2 linked regions of the Homo sapiens genome follow. The protein of the gene in region 2 interacts with the protein of the main gene of each other region in a pairwise test. Each region holds a gene or a part of one and is shown on either strand. Other genes may lie near its edges.

The links. The genes of interacting proteins can lie anywhere in the genome.
Region 1: the proteins of CASTOR2 (region 2) and WDR59 interact in binary tests that used the Homo sapiens proteins (3 or more experiments, as listed by UniProt).

Annotation. Positions count from the first base shown.
Region 1 is NC_000016.10:74,912,117-74,919,141, forward strand, and holds part of WDR59 (GATOR2 complex protein WDR59), read right to left. Parts: intron 5,893-7,025; coding exon 5,813-5,892; intron 4,144-5,812; coding exon 4,011-4,143; coding exon of another isoform or gene 3,986-4,010; intron 3,879-3,985; coding exon 3,754-3,878; intron 247-3,753; coding exon 82-246; coding exon of another isoform or gene 31-81; exon of another isoform or gene 1-30. UniProt on the Homo sapiens protein: As a component of the GATOR2 complex, functions as an activator of the amino acid-sensing branch of the mTORC1 signaling pathway. The GATOR2 complex indirectly activates mTORC1 through the inhibition of the GATOR1 subcomplex.
Region 2 is NC_000007.14:75,016,687-75,023,711, reverse strand, and holds part of CASTOR2 (cytosolic arginine sensor for mTORC1 subunit 2), read right to left. Parts: intron 6,115-7,025; coding exon 5,921-6,114; intron 5,723-5,920; coding exon 5,590-5,722; intron 4,741-5,589; coding exon 4,617-4,740; intron 3,674-4,616; coding exon 3,563-3,673; intron 1,839-3,562; coding exon 1,756-1,838; intron 1-1,755. UniProt on the Homo sapiens protein: Functions as a negative regulator of the TORC1 signaling pathway through the GATOR complex. As part of homodimers or heterodimers with CASTOR1, directly binds and inhibits the GATOR subcomplex GATOR2 and thereby mTORC1.

The DNA of each region.
Region 1 (7,025 bases), on a different chromosome or scaffold from region 2:
TGGAGTTTTCATTCTTCTTTACTAATCCATCTAGACAATGATGCAGAACAGCAAGGAGAATTTGGGAACCCAGACCCCCACCTTCAGCAGCTTAGCTTTCATGGTGGATGTGATGGTTGTGGGGTTAATAAACTGGAAGGAAGGGGCGGCGTTGTTTGGGTACTGTGCAGGGAACTTCACCAGCATCTTGACACGATGGTTGCTGCAGTGCACAGACACTGTGCAGCTCCTGTCTGCCGCATCCATCTGCAAGAGACAAATCCACAATTGCTGTAGAAACAAACCATAAAGCGTCTTTCGATGCAAGCACATTTAACTGAACGCTCCATGTTCCTGGTAATTGAATGAAGGGAAAGAGTCTACAAAGACAAATGTGTGTGGAAGACAATTCATTTTCAAAAAGATTCTTAAATTTTCATACCAGATTCTTAAAATTTTCAAACCAATGGAATAAGCTCAAAGTTGCTGAGACCAGCTCGGTCGGGGTGACCCTAAACCAGCAGTGCCAGAAGAATTAAAGACACACACACAGAAATATAGAGGTGTGGAGTGGGAAATCAGGGGTCTCACAGCCTTCAGAGCTGAGAGCCTTGAACAAAGATTTACCCATGTATTTATCCACAGCAAGCCAGTGATAAGCATTGTTTCTATAGATTATAGATTAACTAAAAGTATTCCTTATGGGAAACAAAGGGATGGGCTGAAATAAAGGGATGGGCTGTGGCTAGCTATCTGCAGCAGGAGTATGTCTTTAAGGCACAGATTGCTTATGCTATTGTTTGTGGTTTAAGAACGTGTTTAAGCGGTTTTCTGCCCTGGGTGGGCCAGGTGTTCCTTGCCCTCATTCCGGTAAACCCACAGCCTTCCAGCGTGGGCATCACCACCATCATGAACATGTCACAGTGCTGCAGAGACTTTATGGCCAGTTTTGGGGCCAGTTTATGGCTAGATTTTGGGGGGGGGGGGGGCCTGTTCCCAACATGTCCCCCTTCTTTGATTTGCAAAGTGATAAAAGCAAAGGCAGCTTTGTCACGGTGAGCTACTTCTTGCAGGAGTCAAGATCCACATCTGCAGACTACACAAAGACAAACAACACAGAGGGTCAGTTTATGGCCAGATTTCAGGGGGCCTGTTCCCAACACAAAGTATTCTTTTTTTTTTTTTTTGAGACAGGGTCTCACTTTGTCACCCAGGCTGGAGTGCAGTGTGGCACAATCTCAGCTCACTGCAACCTCCACCTTCTGGGTTCAAGTGATTCTCCCACCTCAACCTCCCAAATACTGGGACTACAGGCCACCATGCCCAGCAAATCTTTGTTTTGTTGTTGTTGTTGTTGTTTTGCTTTTTGTGTTTTGGTAGAGATGGGGTTTCGCCATGTTGGCCAGGCTGGTCTCAAACTCCTGACCTCCAGTGATCCACCCACCTTGGCCTCCTAAAGTGCTGGGATTACAGGCATGAGCCACCACGAAGTTCAAAGTATTCTGACTTTAACAAAGCTTCCTCCCTCCCAAAGCTGTGGGGTAGACTGAAACTTGTTATATTTACTTTGAGATGGGAAAATAAAGCAGGAAGAAGTTAAATACCAGACTCAACTTAAAAAGTGCTCCTGGGAAAATCCATAGGGGAAGAAAGTAGATTCGGGATTGCCACGGGCTGAGGGAAGGGGAAATAGGGAGTGACTGCTCATGGGTATGGGGTTTCTTCTGGGAATGATGAATATGTTCTGGAATCAGACAATGGTAATGGCTGTACAACTTTGTGAATATACCCACAACAGCCAGATTATATACTTTAAAAAGCGGAATTTTGGCTGGGCACAGTGGCTCACGCCTGTAATCCCAGCACTTTGGGAGGCCAAGGTGGGCAGATCAACTGACATCAGGAGTTCGAGGCCAACCTGGCCAACATGGCAAAAACCCCATCTCTACTAAAAATACGAAAAAAAATTAGCTGAGCGTGGTGGCGTGCGCCCATAATCCCAGCTATCTGGGAAGCTGAGGCAGGAGAATCGCGTGAACCCGAGAGGCAGAGCCTGCAGTGAGTCACGGTAGCACCACTGCACTCCAGTCTGAGCGGACAGAGCAAGGCTCCATCTCAATAAAAAAAAAAAGATGAACTTTATACTGTGTGAATTATATCTCAATAATTTTTTTAAAGTACTCTCGAAGAAAGGAATCAAGATCTTAAACTAGATCACTAGGTATCCACACTGTCCTCAAATGGGACAAAGGGAGTATAAACTGACTTGATATAGATCACTAATTAAGCAAAGAATCCTTTATATCTTTTCATTTCTTGTGTTGCCAACTAGAGACAGCAGCTGGAGTAAAGAGAAAAGAACCACATGTGGCAAATCTGGAGACCTGGATTCACATGTTGTTTCTTCCACCAAATAGCTGCTGACCTTGGACATTTCTTCTCTTGATGTCTCCGTTTCCTCAGCTGTAAAGTGAGGCTAAAACCACTTACAGCAGACTATTTTTTTTTTTTTTTTCGAGACGGAGTCTTGCTCTGTCGCCAGGCTGGAGTGTAGTGGTGTGATCTCGGCCTCACTGCAAGCTCTGCCTCCTGGGTTCAAGCGATTCTCCTGCCTCAGCCTCGTGAATAGCCGGGACTACAGGCGCACGCCACCATGACCAGCTAATTTTTGTATTTTTAGTATAGACGGGGTTTTACCATGTTGGCCAAGAAGGTGTCGATCTCTTCACCTTGTGATCCGTCTACCTTGGCCTCCCAAAGTGCTGGAATTACAGGCGTGAGCTACCGCACCTGGCCAGCAGACTTGTTTTAAAAGCCACATGAGATAGTTATGTAACAGCACATATTTGGGTAAAGGAAAAACTAATCAAGCTTTAAAACTCCTTTCTGGAGAGATACTCAATTTTCTGAAGCAAAGACTTTCAATACTTGCCCCCAAAAAAGTAACTGTTCCACAGGCTAAGCAAACAAAGAAGTTTTGGTTGCCTTCTTACTGTGAATCTAAATTACCAGGAAATGGCCAGCCTGTGAGAGAAGATGGCACAGCCCAGCACAGCACAGCACAGCACAGCACAGAGTGCCCTGGACGGGCTGGAGGTTTGGCTTCCCAAGTCAACTCTGTCCCCAACTTCAGCAGCAACCTCTGCCAAATCACTAAGCCTCCAGGGCCTAAGTATCTTCCTCTACAGTAAAATGAGATGCTGGAGCATCTAAGGAGGAGCTAAGGCACACGAGCATCAGGTTCTCCTTTGGCTCATCTTAGGAGAAAAGAATAGGGGTAGAAAGAAAGTCTGCATCTCTTTATTTACTTATTTATTTATTTATTTATTTAATTATTTTATTTATTTTTTTTGAGACAGAGTCTTGCTCTGTCACCCAGGCTGGAGGACAGTGGTGCGATCTTGGCTCACTGCAACCTCTGCTTCTCAAGTTCAAGTGATTCCTGTGCCTCAGCCTCTCGAGTAGTTGGAATTACAGGCTAATTTTTTTTTTTTTTTTTAAGTGGAGACAGGGTTTCACCATGTTGGCCAGGCTGGTCTCAAACTCCTGGCTTCCTGGTTTCAAGTGATCTGTCCACCTCAGACTCCCAAAGTGCTGGGATTACAGGCGTGAGCCACCGCGCCTGGCCAGAAAACCCAGGAAATAAAAAAGCAAGCAGAGAGAGTTCTGTTAAAGCTGCAAAGCTATTTGCTAACTGAAATCATTGCTGAAATGGTTCCCTCTCCCACAAACTGCCATCAGCAAACATGAGATACAGTTGATTAAACTAAGTACCTCCACATTGACATTCCGGATTTGCACATTGATCAGGGAGAATTCCTGCTGCAAGGTCTGAGGCAGCCCCAGTTGATCTGATTTCCTCTCTTCCAGGAGATTTCTAGGGGGATCTTCTTTTAGGGCTAGCAGGAGAGAGAAGTTCAATGTTGGAAAGCATTTTTGAAAATGAAACAGAGAACAGGTCTGGGGTATCTGCCACAACTCTGCAATGCGTAGAGTGGCACCTTACCTGAGACATCAGTTTGACAAATTACCTTCTTCCTCCCCATGGCTTGCAGTGTGCTGGTGATCTGTATCTTCAGTGTGCAGGGTCTTCTCAGGTTCCGGCAGAAGGGAAATACTCTCAATGAACTCATCAACACCATCTAATATGTCATTTGCACAAAGCTGCAACAAAGGGTAGAAGATGTAGTTCTAGAGAAGTCCGTGGAAATGATTGTCATGTCTGATTAAAGAGTTCTGACTTAAAAATGGGAAGGGCAAAGGATGGGGATGTGTCAGCCAAGAGCTGACATAATCAAAATAGATTTTACCCATTGCCAACTCTCCCTGGTTAAACACCAGGGATAACAGACTCTATTATTCAACACTGGAAATTTTTTCATCATGTTCAGAGTTTATGCAAGCCTCAGAAAAAAAATTAATTTAAACTCCAAGCTTTGATGGAGTTATTCAGCTAATCCAGGAGCAAAAATATCATAACCGGCCAGGCGTAGTGGCTCATGCCTGTAATCCCAGCACTTTGGGAGGCCGAGGCAGGTGGATCACCTGAGGTTAGGAGTTTGAGACCAGCCTGGCCAAGAGGGTGAAATGCCGTCTCTACTAAAAATACAAAAACTAGCCAGGCATGGTGGCGGACGCCTACAGTCCCAGCTACTCGGGAGGCTGAGGCAGGAGAATCACTTGAACCCAGGAGGCAGAGGTTGCAGTGAGCAAAGATCACGTGGCTGCACTCCAGCCTGGGCAACAGAGAGAGACTCCATCTCAAAAAAAAAAAAACGAAAACCATAACCTCAAGGCATTTGGTGCAAATTGTACCTTTTGGAAAAAACAGATTGAAAATGCAATAAGGTAATGAGATTTGATCAAACTGCTCAAGAGTGACTTCATACTAAGCAGTGTTGAAATTTTTATCCAGTATTTTCTATTCATTCTGTGCAAAGCAATGTACCAAGCGCTGTGGGAGATCCAATACAAGTGAGACACCTTCCCACTGTCAAGAAATTTAGCCATCAAATGAGGAGAGGACAGAACCCTGTGATAAGGCAGAGCAGAGCAAGGGCCACCAAAGCAGCTCATGCCAGGTACTACTGTGTGTGGTTCATGTAAGAAACAGATATCATTTATCGGGAAAAAATTACAAACAGCTTCATAAAAGCAGTGTTGCTGATAGATGTAGAAGCCTCCAAGCATTTGCAGCGTACAAGGGTAGGCTTCTTAGCCCATTTAGAAGAGAAAGAAATGAACCCACAGGGCACATACTCAGGGAGCTACCCATACTATCTTATGCTAGAATAAGGAGGGGAAAGACATTTAGAGGCTCTCTGGCCTTAAAGTGCTGAATACTGAAGTTGGTTCTTAAAGACCTCAAAGCCTTGGTGTGGTACACACCAGCTACTCAGCCAACCAGTAAGTATGTATTAAATGTCTATCCTGCCGGGGAAGGTGGCTCACACCAGTGATCCCAGCACTGTGGGAGGCTGAGGCAGGTGGATCACTTGAGGTCAGGAGTTGAAGACTAGCCTGGCCAACTTGGTGAAACCCCGTCTCTACTAAAAATACAAAAATTAGCCGAGTGTGTTGGTGGGCGCCTATAATCCCAGCTACTCAGGAGGCTGACGCAGGAGAATCGCTTGAACCCGGGAGGCAGAGGTTGCAGTGAGCCAAGATCGTGCCACTGCACTCCAGCCTGGGCGATTCAGTGAGACGCACTCTCAAAAAAAAAAAAAAAAAAAAAAAATTGTTTATCCTGTAACCTCTAATTTCCGCAAATCCTGAATCTTACACTTTTTGGTGGATTCAGGTACATTTCTCCACAATAGCACTGCATACATACCCTCTGCATCTGGGAATCCACCCGCCACATTCTCAAGGTCTGATCCCGGGACCACGTCACCAGTTGATAGTCCTTGGACCCTAGAAATCACCAAATAAGAATCCTGGAAATTCTTCTGGATTCAACGTCTATTTGCTAGAGGTTGAAATGGAGTGAGATTCATCCATCCATTCAACAAACATCTACTGAACATTTCTCATATGCCAGGCACTATTCTAGGTACCAGGACTACAGCATGAATAAAATAATTTCTATCTTTATAGATCTCGCATTCCAGTGGTAGAAAGAGACAAATATCTGATAAAACATCTGGTATAAAGAATAACACAGGATAAGAGGACAGAGACTGATGGTGGAACTATTTTTAGATAGAACTCCCCAAGGAAATCACATTTGAGCAGAAACTTAAATGATGTGAAATACTAACTGGCAAATTAGCAGGTAAAGAGCGATGCTGGGATTTAATGTCACACTAAACTTTCACCTCTGCAAATGTTCGTCCTTTTACATGCTCTCGAAGAGCTGGAGATGAACATATTTTTGCAAAACGGGTTATTTCAAATGCATCATGGCATCTTACCATTCAAAAGAATTTTTTGGTAAAGTGATGTATCTCTTTGTAAAATGAATAATCAATCCTTAATGTACTTAATTGACTGAATCATATTTTCATCTTAACTCTGGTCAAAGGGAAATTATCCTGAAAAGGTTCAGGGTGCTTTATGAAATAACTTCATGAAAGATCAGGACATTTGCGGATAATTATGCAGTATCTAGAATCTCCTTCATGGCCACCTTCAGAGAGCAAAGATTTTAGAAATAATTTCATCCAATTTCTTAATTTTATGGATGGGGAAACTGAGGCAAGAGAATATGATCTGTCCAAGGTCACAGGGTGAGTGGGCAGGAAAACAAGGGCCAGTTCTTATTGGTTCCTTCTCTGCATCACCACCTTCAACCAAAAATTCACTCTTCAATATTTCATACATCACTAGGCACAGCCAGCCAGACAGCAACTATTCTGAACCACGGCTTGTTACAAGTGCCACCATCTTGCCTCATGTCCACATCAACAATCTTCTGACCCTACATCTGGCTTCTCTTCCTGCCCCTGACTTTGACGAAAAGGTATGCCTAATTCCTTTCTAAATGTTATAAATTAACTCAACCCCTCGACCTGTGCCTCCCCCGCTGGTCCCAAGGGGCCCTTTGC
Region 2 (7,025 bases):
TCCCAGCACTTTGGGAGGCCGAGGCGGGTGGATCACTTGAGGTCAGGAGTTCGAGACCAGCCTGGCCAACATGGTGAAACCCCATCTCTACTAAAACTACAAGAATTAGCCGGGCGTGGTGGCACGTGCCTATAGTCCCAGCTACTTGGGAGGCTGAACCCAGGAGGCGAAGACTGCGCCATTGCACTTCAGCCTGGGCAACAGAGCAAGATCCGGTCTCAAAAAAAAAAAAAACAAAAAACAAAAAGAAAAAAAAAATGCTATCCACCAAAGACGTTGTCTGGACAACTGTGGAAACAGAGGAAAGACTAAGTCTTAGGGAATGACTGAAAATTTTCTCCTGTGGAATCCTGTCATTGTGGTTATATAGGAGAAAGTGTTTCTTCTTTTTTTTTTCTTTTTTTGAGGTGGACTCTCGCTCTGTCGCCCAGGCTGGAGTGCAGTGGCGCCATCTCGGCTTGCTGCAAGCTCCGCCTCCCAGGTTCATGCCATTCTCCTGCCTCAGCCTCCCAAGTAGCTGGGACTACAGGCGCCTGCCACCACGACCGGCTAATTTTTTGTATTTTTAGTAGAGACAGGGTTTTGCTGTGTTAGCCAGGATGATCTCGATCTCCTGACCTTGTGATCCTCCTGCCTCGGCCTCCCAAAGTGCTGGGATTACAGGCGTAAGCCACCTTGCCCGGTGCTTCTTCCCAGGATGGAAAAGGCGAGGCATTTAGGAGTAAAGTGTTGGGTGTCAGACTCTCTGGGAGATATGTGACAATTACATGTATTTACGTGAAGAAAACATGTTAAAAAATTGCCAGCAGTTATTATCTTTGAGCTGTGGAAATAAGGAGTGATTTTTTTTCTCTTTAATTTTTATCACAGCCCCAATTTATTCTTTTTTAAATTAAATTTATTATTATTTTTTGAGACAGAGTCTTGCTCTGTTGCCCAGGCAGGAGTGCAATGGAGCGATCTTGGCTCATCGCAACCTCTGCTTCCTGGGTTCAAGCGATTCTCCCATCTCAGCCTCCTGAGTAGCTGGGATTACAGGCGCACGCCACTGTGCCTGGCCAATTTTTTGTATTGTTAGTAGACATGGGGTTTCGTCATATTGGCCAGGCTGGTACTCCTGACCTCAGGTGATCCACCTGCATCGGCCTCCCAAAGACCTGGGATTACAGGCACGAGCTAACTCGCCCAGCCTCTTTTTTTATTTTTAGAGGCAAAGATTTGCTCTGTCACCCAGGTTGGAGTACAATGGCATGATCATGGCTCACTGTAGCCTTGAACTCTTAGGCTCAAGTAATCCTCCTGCCTCAGCCTCCTGAGTAGCTGGGATTACAGGCGCCAGCCACCATGCCCAGCTAATTTTAAAAATTTTGGTAGAGACAGGGCCTCGCTATGTTTCCCAGGCTGGTACAGAACTCCTGGGCTCAATGGATCTTTCCACCTCGGCCTCCCAAAGTGCTGGGATTACAAGCACGAGCCACCGCGCCCAGCTGCTTAATTTTCTAATAATAAGCAACATATTAAATTTCAAGAGGGGGCAAAATAAAAGCACTCCGATTGAAGCCTGCTCCGCACTTCCCCAAGAGGCCTGTGTACAGCTGCCACACACCAGTGAGCAACAGAAATTTCAGGCTCCCCAAGCCTCAGTCTCCCCATCTGTACCCCCCAGCAGGGGCCGAGTCACTGCGGACAACGTATGTGAATGGGCTCAGCAATGCCAGCTCCCTCAATTCCCCATGTAATCCCCCCAGGACTCACCAAACCCCAGGGGCTGTCCTCCAATCCGGACCATCTTCCAGAGCTCTCCGGATGCGCTTGTGAACAGCAAGTTACTAGGAAACCTTCAAAAGGAGCGAGAGAAGAATCCCCGAGGCTGATGTGAATTGCACTCCCTCCTTGGTGTGCTGGTGCACCAGCCAGAGCGAGGCATGGGGCTGGCCAGGCAGGGTTGGGCAGACCTCAGGGCCCCCCAAAAACAATCCCTTCCAGACACCCTGGACCCATTCGCCCGGCGGCCTCCTCGTCTTGAGGGGAGGCGGATGGGGAGGGTGATGTCAGGCTGGGCTTTGTAACAAGCCCCTCCCCAAACCCTTGCTAAGGCTGGTCTAGACACCTCTTCCCAGGTCCAGAGCACAAGCTGAGGGAGAAATAGCACCGGGGCTGCGGTTCAAATCCCCACTTTGCCACCACCCCACAGTGGACCTCGGACAACCCCTGCACCTCTCTGAGCTGGGGGACCAGCTTACTTATGATGAAGTGCTATGGTGAGGGTTTATTAGAGACAAAGTGGCAGGGCGTGGTGGCTCACACCCGTAATCCCAGCACTTTGGGAGGCCGAGACTGGCAGATCACATGCAGTCAGGAGTTGGAGACCAGCCTGGTCAGCATGGCGAAGCCCCATCTCTACGAAAAATACAAAAATTGGCCAGGTGCGGTGGCTCACGCCGGTAATCCCAGCACTTTGGGAGGCCAAAGTGGGTGAATCACTTGAGGTCAGGAGTTCACGAGCAGCCTGGCCAACATGGCAAAACCCTGTCTCTACAAAAAATACAAAAATAAACAGGGTATGGTGGTGTGCGCCTGTAGTTCCAGCTACTCGGGAGGCTGAGGCAGGAGAATCACTTGAACCTGGGAGGTGGAGGTTGCAGTGAGCTGAGATCGCGCCACTGCACTCCAGCCTGGGCAACAGAGTGAGACCCTGTCTCAAAAAGTAAATAAATATTAAAAAAAAATAAAATAAAAATACAAAAATTAGCCAGGTGTGGTGGCAGGCACCTGTAGTCCCAACTATTCAGGAGGCTGAGACATGTGGATCACTTGAACCTGGGAGGCAGAGGTGGCAGTGAGCCAAGACTGCACCACTGCACTCCAGCATGGGTGACAGAGAGAGATCCTGTCTCAACAAAAATAAAAATAAAAAAAATCAGGCTGGTTGCGGTGGCTCATGCCAGTAATCCCAGCACTTTGGGAGGCCGGGGCGGGCAGATCACAAGGTCAGGAGATCCAGACCATCTTGGCTAACATGGTGAAACCTGGTCTCTACTAAAAATACAAAAAATTAGCCAGGCGTGGTGGCGGCGCCTGTAGTCCCAGCTACTTGGGAGGCTGAGGCAGGAGAATGGCATGAACCCGGGAGGTGGAGCTTGCAGTGAGCCGAGATAGTGCCACTGCACTCCAGCCTGGGCGACAGAGCGAGACTCCGTCTAAAAAAAAAAAAAAAAAAATCACGCCTGAGGCGGGCGGATTGCCTGAGGTCAGGAGCTTGAGACCAGCCTCACCAACATGGCAAAACCCTGTCTTTACTAAAAATACAAAAATTAGCTGGGCATGGTGGCACATGCCTGTAGTCCCAGCTGAGGCAGGAGAATTGCTTGAACCTGAGAGGTGGAGGTTGCCTTGAGCCGAGATCGCACCACTGCACCCCAGCCTGGGCGACAGAGCGAGACCCCGTATCAAAAAAAAACAACAACAAATAAAAGACAAAGTGGGTGATGTGCCATCACATAGTCCCCCCAGACCCTGGGGCCCACCCTGGGTTGAACGTCCACCCCAGGGCCTGGCTCACCTCTGCTGCGTCTGCACGTCCATCACCAGGGAGATGTAGCCCTCGATGAGGGAGAAGGAGAAGAAGCGGATGTGGCCGCAGTCATCCCCAGTGGCCATGGGGTCCTTCACTCTGGGGACCAGAGGCAGCTGGTAAAGATGGGGCCCCTGTGGCCCCTGCCCCATTCACACCAGCCCAGGGAAGCTGGGCCCTGCCCAGGCTTTGATGCCACCTGGGTGACCCTGGGCCAGTGTCCTTCTCATCCTGCTCGCTATGCCACGGGGATGATTTCACCGCATTCACAAAGGCGGGTGCTACACTTTGCAGTACTGGAGGCCCGGCCGGCCTCCCACGCAGGTTACACCGGCCCCTGCCTGCATCTCAGGGCACAGGCTGTGGTGACTGTCAGCATGCTGGACCCTGCCCCGCCCCACCTCGTGTTGGCCTAAACTTTACAAAATCTGCTGAGGAAGTGACACAATGTCTGTTGTTCACCAAATGAAAAAAATCTGAGTTCTCAGCTCCTCAACAGACTGGGCCTGTCCTCGGAGCTCAGTGGGGAGTGGGGAGTTTGTTACAGCTCCCAATGAGTCTTTGGGGCGTCACCAAATTTTGGGGTTCCCAGGGTAGGATGTCTCACCCCTGAGACTGGGGCTTTTAGGTAGAGCTGTGTCTCCCCCTCAGCCTAGTTCCAGGGCGGGTCCATGTCTCCCACCCCAAACTAGTTCCGGGGTGGGTCTGTGTCTCCTACCTCAGACTAGCTCCAGGACAGGTCTGTGTCTCCCCACTCAGACTAGCTCTGGGGAGGGTCCATGTGTCCCCCATCAGACTAGCTCTGGGGCGGGTCTGTGTCTCCTACCTCAGACTAGCTCCGGGGCAGGTCCATGTCTCCCACCTCAGACTAGTTCCAGGGTGGGTCCATGTCTCTCTGCTCAGACTAGCTCCAGGGAAGGTCTGTGTCTCTTCCCTCAGATGAGCTCCTAGCAAAGCCTCCCCCGTCAGACTAAGACTCCTAGGCGGAGCCATGCCTCTCCCTGGCCCACCCTGCAACCCCTCATGCCCAAGGCAGCCCTACCCATTGGAGTAGAACATGACATCCATGAGGAGTGTGGCAACAGCAGGCAGCGTGTCAGGGTCCAGGCTGGTGACACAGAACCTGTTGCTCGGGCTGGACAGTGGGTGGATGACTGGCCTCTGGACTGTAAGAGCACAAAGATGTCAGGCACTGAGGCTGGGACTGAAAGCAGCAGCTCTGGTGGGTGCAGGGCCTGGGAAGAGGGCTGGGGAGGGCTCAGCTGCAGGCCCCAAGAGACTCATTCACCGCTGCTTCTCCAGCCTCTACCACCAATTACCACCGTCCTGATTCTCCATCTCACCCTCAGGCCCCTGGGCCTTTGCACATGCTGTGCTGGCTGCCTGGGATGCCCTTCCCAACCGGCACCACCTGGCTCCGTTCCTACCTGTGTTCCAGGCTTCAGCACCACAGTCCCTGCCCAGGGAAATCCACCCTGACACCTGGGCTGCAGCAGGAGTGGCCTCTGGCCATTGCTGTCTGCATGCACGTCCACCACCCTTGCTAGACACGGCAGCAAGGCCTGCCTAGGACCTTTCCATCACATTTTTTTTTTTTTGAGATGGAGTTTTGTTCTTGTTGCCCAGACTGGAGTGCAATGGCACAATCTCGGCTCACCACAACCTCCGCCTCCTGGGTTCAAGTGATTCTCCTGCCTCGGCCTCCTCAGTAGCTGGAATTACAAGTATGCACCACCACACCCAGCTAATTTTGTATTTTTAGTAGAGACGGGGTTTCTCCATGTTGGTCAGGCTGGTCTCAAACTCCTGACCTCAGGTGAATTGCCTGCCTCGGCCTCCCAAAGTGCTGGGATTACAAGCATGAGCCACCACACTGGGCCCTTTGCATCCCGTTCTGCCTGGCACTCCATTCATGCTCAGTGGGCAGAAGCCCGTGCTGAGAGTAAGGCTGGTCTGCGGCTGGGCCTGGTAACTTCGTGAGGTTTCCCCTGCACAAACCCCCGCCCCCAGCTCACCCAGCTTGGGCTTCACGAAGCCATTGGTGATGCCGAGGTTCTCGGCTGCCACGGTCTCGCCATTGACGACCCGCAGGATGGTGAACTCTGATGACAATGTGTGGGTGACAAAGGGCAGGTCCCGCTCGCGCACCTAGGGGCAAGAAGTTGAGGCCGTGTGTGCCTGGTGGCCCTGGGGGATGTGGGTCTGGGGCACCGACCTCTCACCCTGAGACTCTGCCCCCACCCTGGAATAGCGTGGAAGGGCAAGGCTGCAAGGGGTGGGAGATGGGAGTGAGTGTGTCAGAGGCGGGCATGAGTGTGCAAGGCGTGTCTGTGATGGTCAGCTCACCAGGATGAAGTCTGTCTGATACGTGGACAGCATGAACACGGATATGTTCTGGTCAGCCAGTGGGGCGATGACTGACTTGGCGATCTTGGTCACGCCGATGGGCTGGGAGCTGGAGAAGCTGCCACCGCCGGACACCACGTTCAGGGCCAGCCAGGTGGCATCTGCCACACTCAGGTGCTCCGAGGAGGGCAGCTCTGGAGGGAGACACAGAAGGCAGTCCTGTGACTGCTGAGGTTCCAGATGACCCAAGGGCAGGGCAAGGCAGGCCAGAGGTGGAGAGTGATGCTCTGGGGCCAGCTCCACCCTGTGCCTTGCCTCACTTTCCAACAGGATTTTTTTTTTTTGAGACAGTCTTGCTCTGTCGCCCGGCTGGAGTGCCTGGAGTAGCGCGATCTCGGCTCACTGCAACCTCTGACTTCCTGGTTCAAGTGATTCTCCTGCATCAGCCTCCCGAGTAGCTGGGATTACAGGCACATGCCACCACGCCCAGCTAATTTTTGTATTTTTAGTAGAGACAGGGTTTCACCATGTTGGCCAGGATGGTCTCAATCTCTTGACCTCGTGATCCGCCCGCATCAGCCTCCCCAAGTGCTGGGATTACAGGCGTGAGCCACCGCACCCAGCCGGATGGGATTGTTTTTTGAGAGAGTCTTGCTCTGTCACCCAGGCTGGAGTGCAGTGGCGCGATCTCGGCTCATTGCAACCTCCACCTCCTGGGTTCAAGTGATTCTTGAGTAGCGGAGATTATAGGTATGCACCATCACACCCAGCTAATTTTTGTATTTTTAGTAGAGATGGCATTTTCCCATGTTGGTCTGGCTGGTCTCGAACTCCTGATCTCAAGGGATCCTCCTGCCTTGGCCTCCCAAAGCGCTAGGATTACAGGCGTGAGCCACTGCGCCCAGCCTTCAACAGGATGGGATTTGAATCAAAGGCTGCTTCCTGGGAGGACTGGGCAGGGAAGGCCCTCAGATGACACAGGACATCCCCGGCAGCTTAGCAGAGTAGGAGCCATGTGGGCAAGTGGTTGATCTGCACCGAGCCTCAGTTTGCTCAGCCGTAAAACGATGGCATCAGTAGTGGGTAATGTCCTTTAGTTCTTACA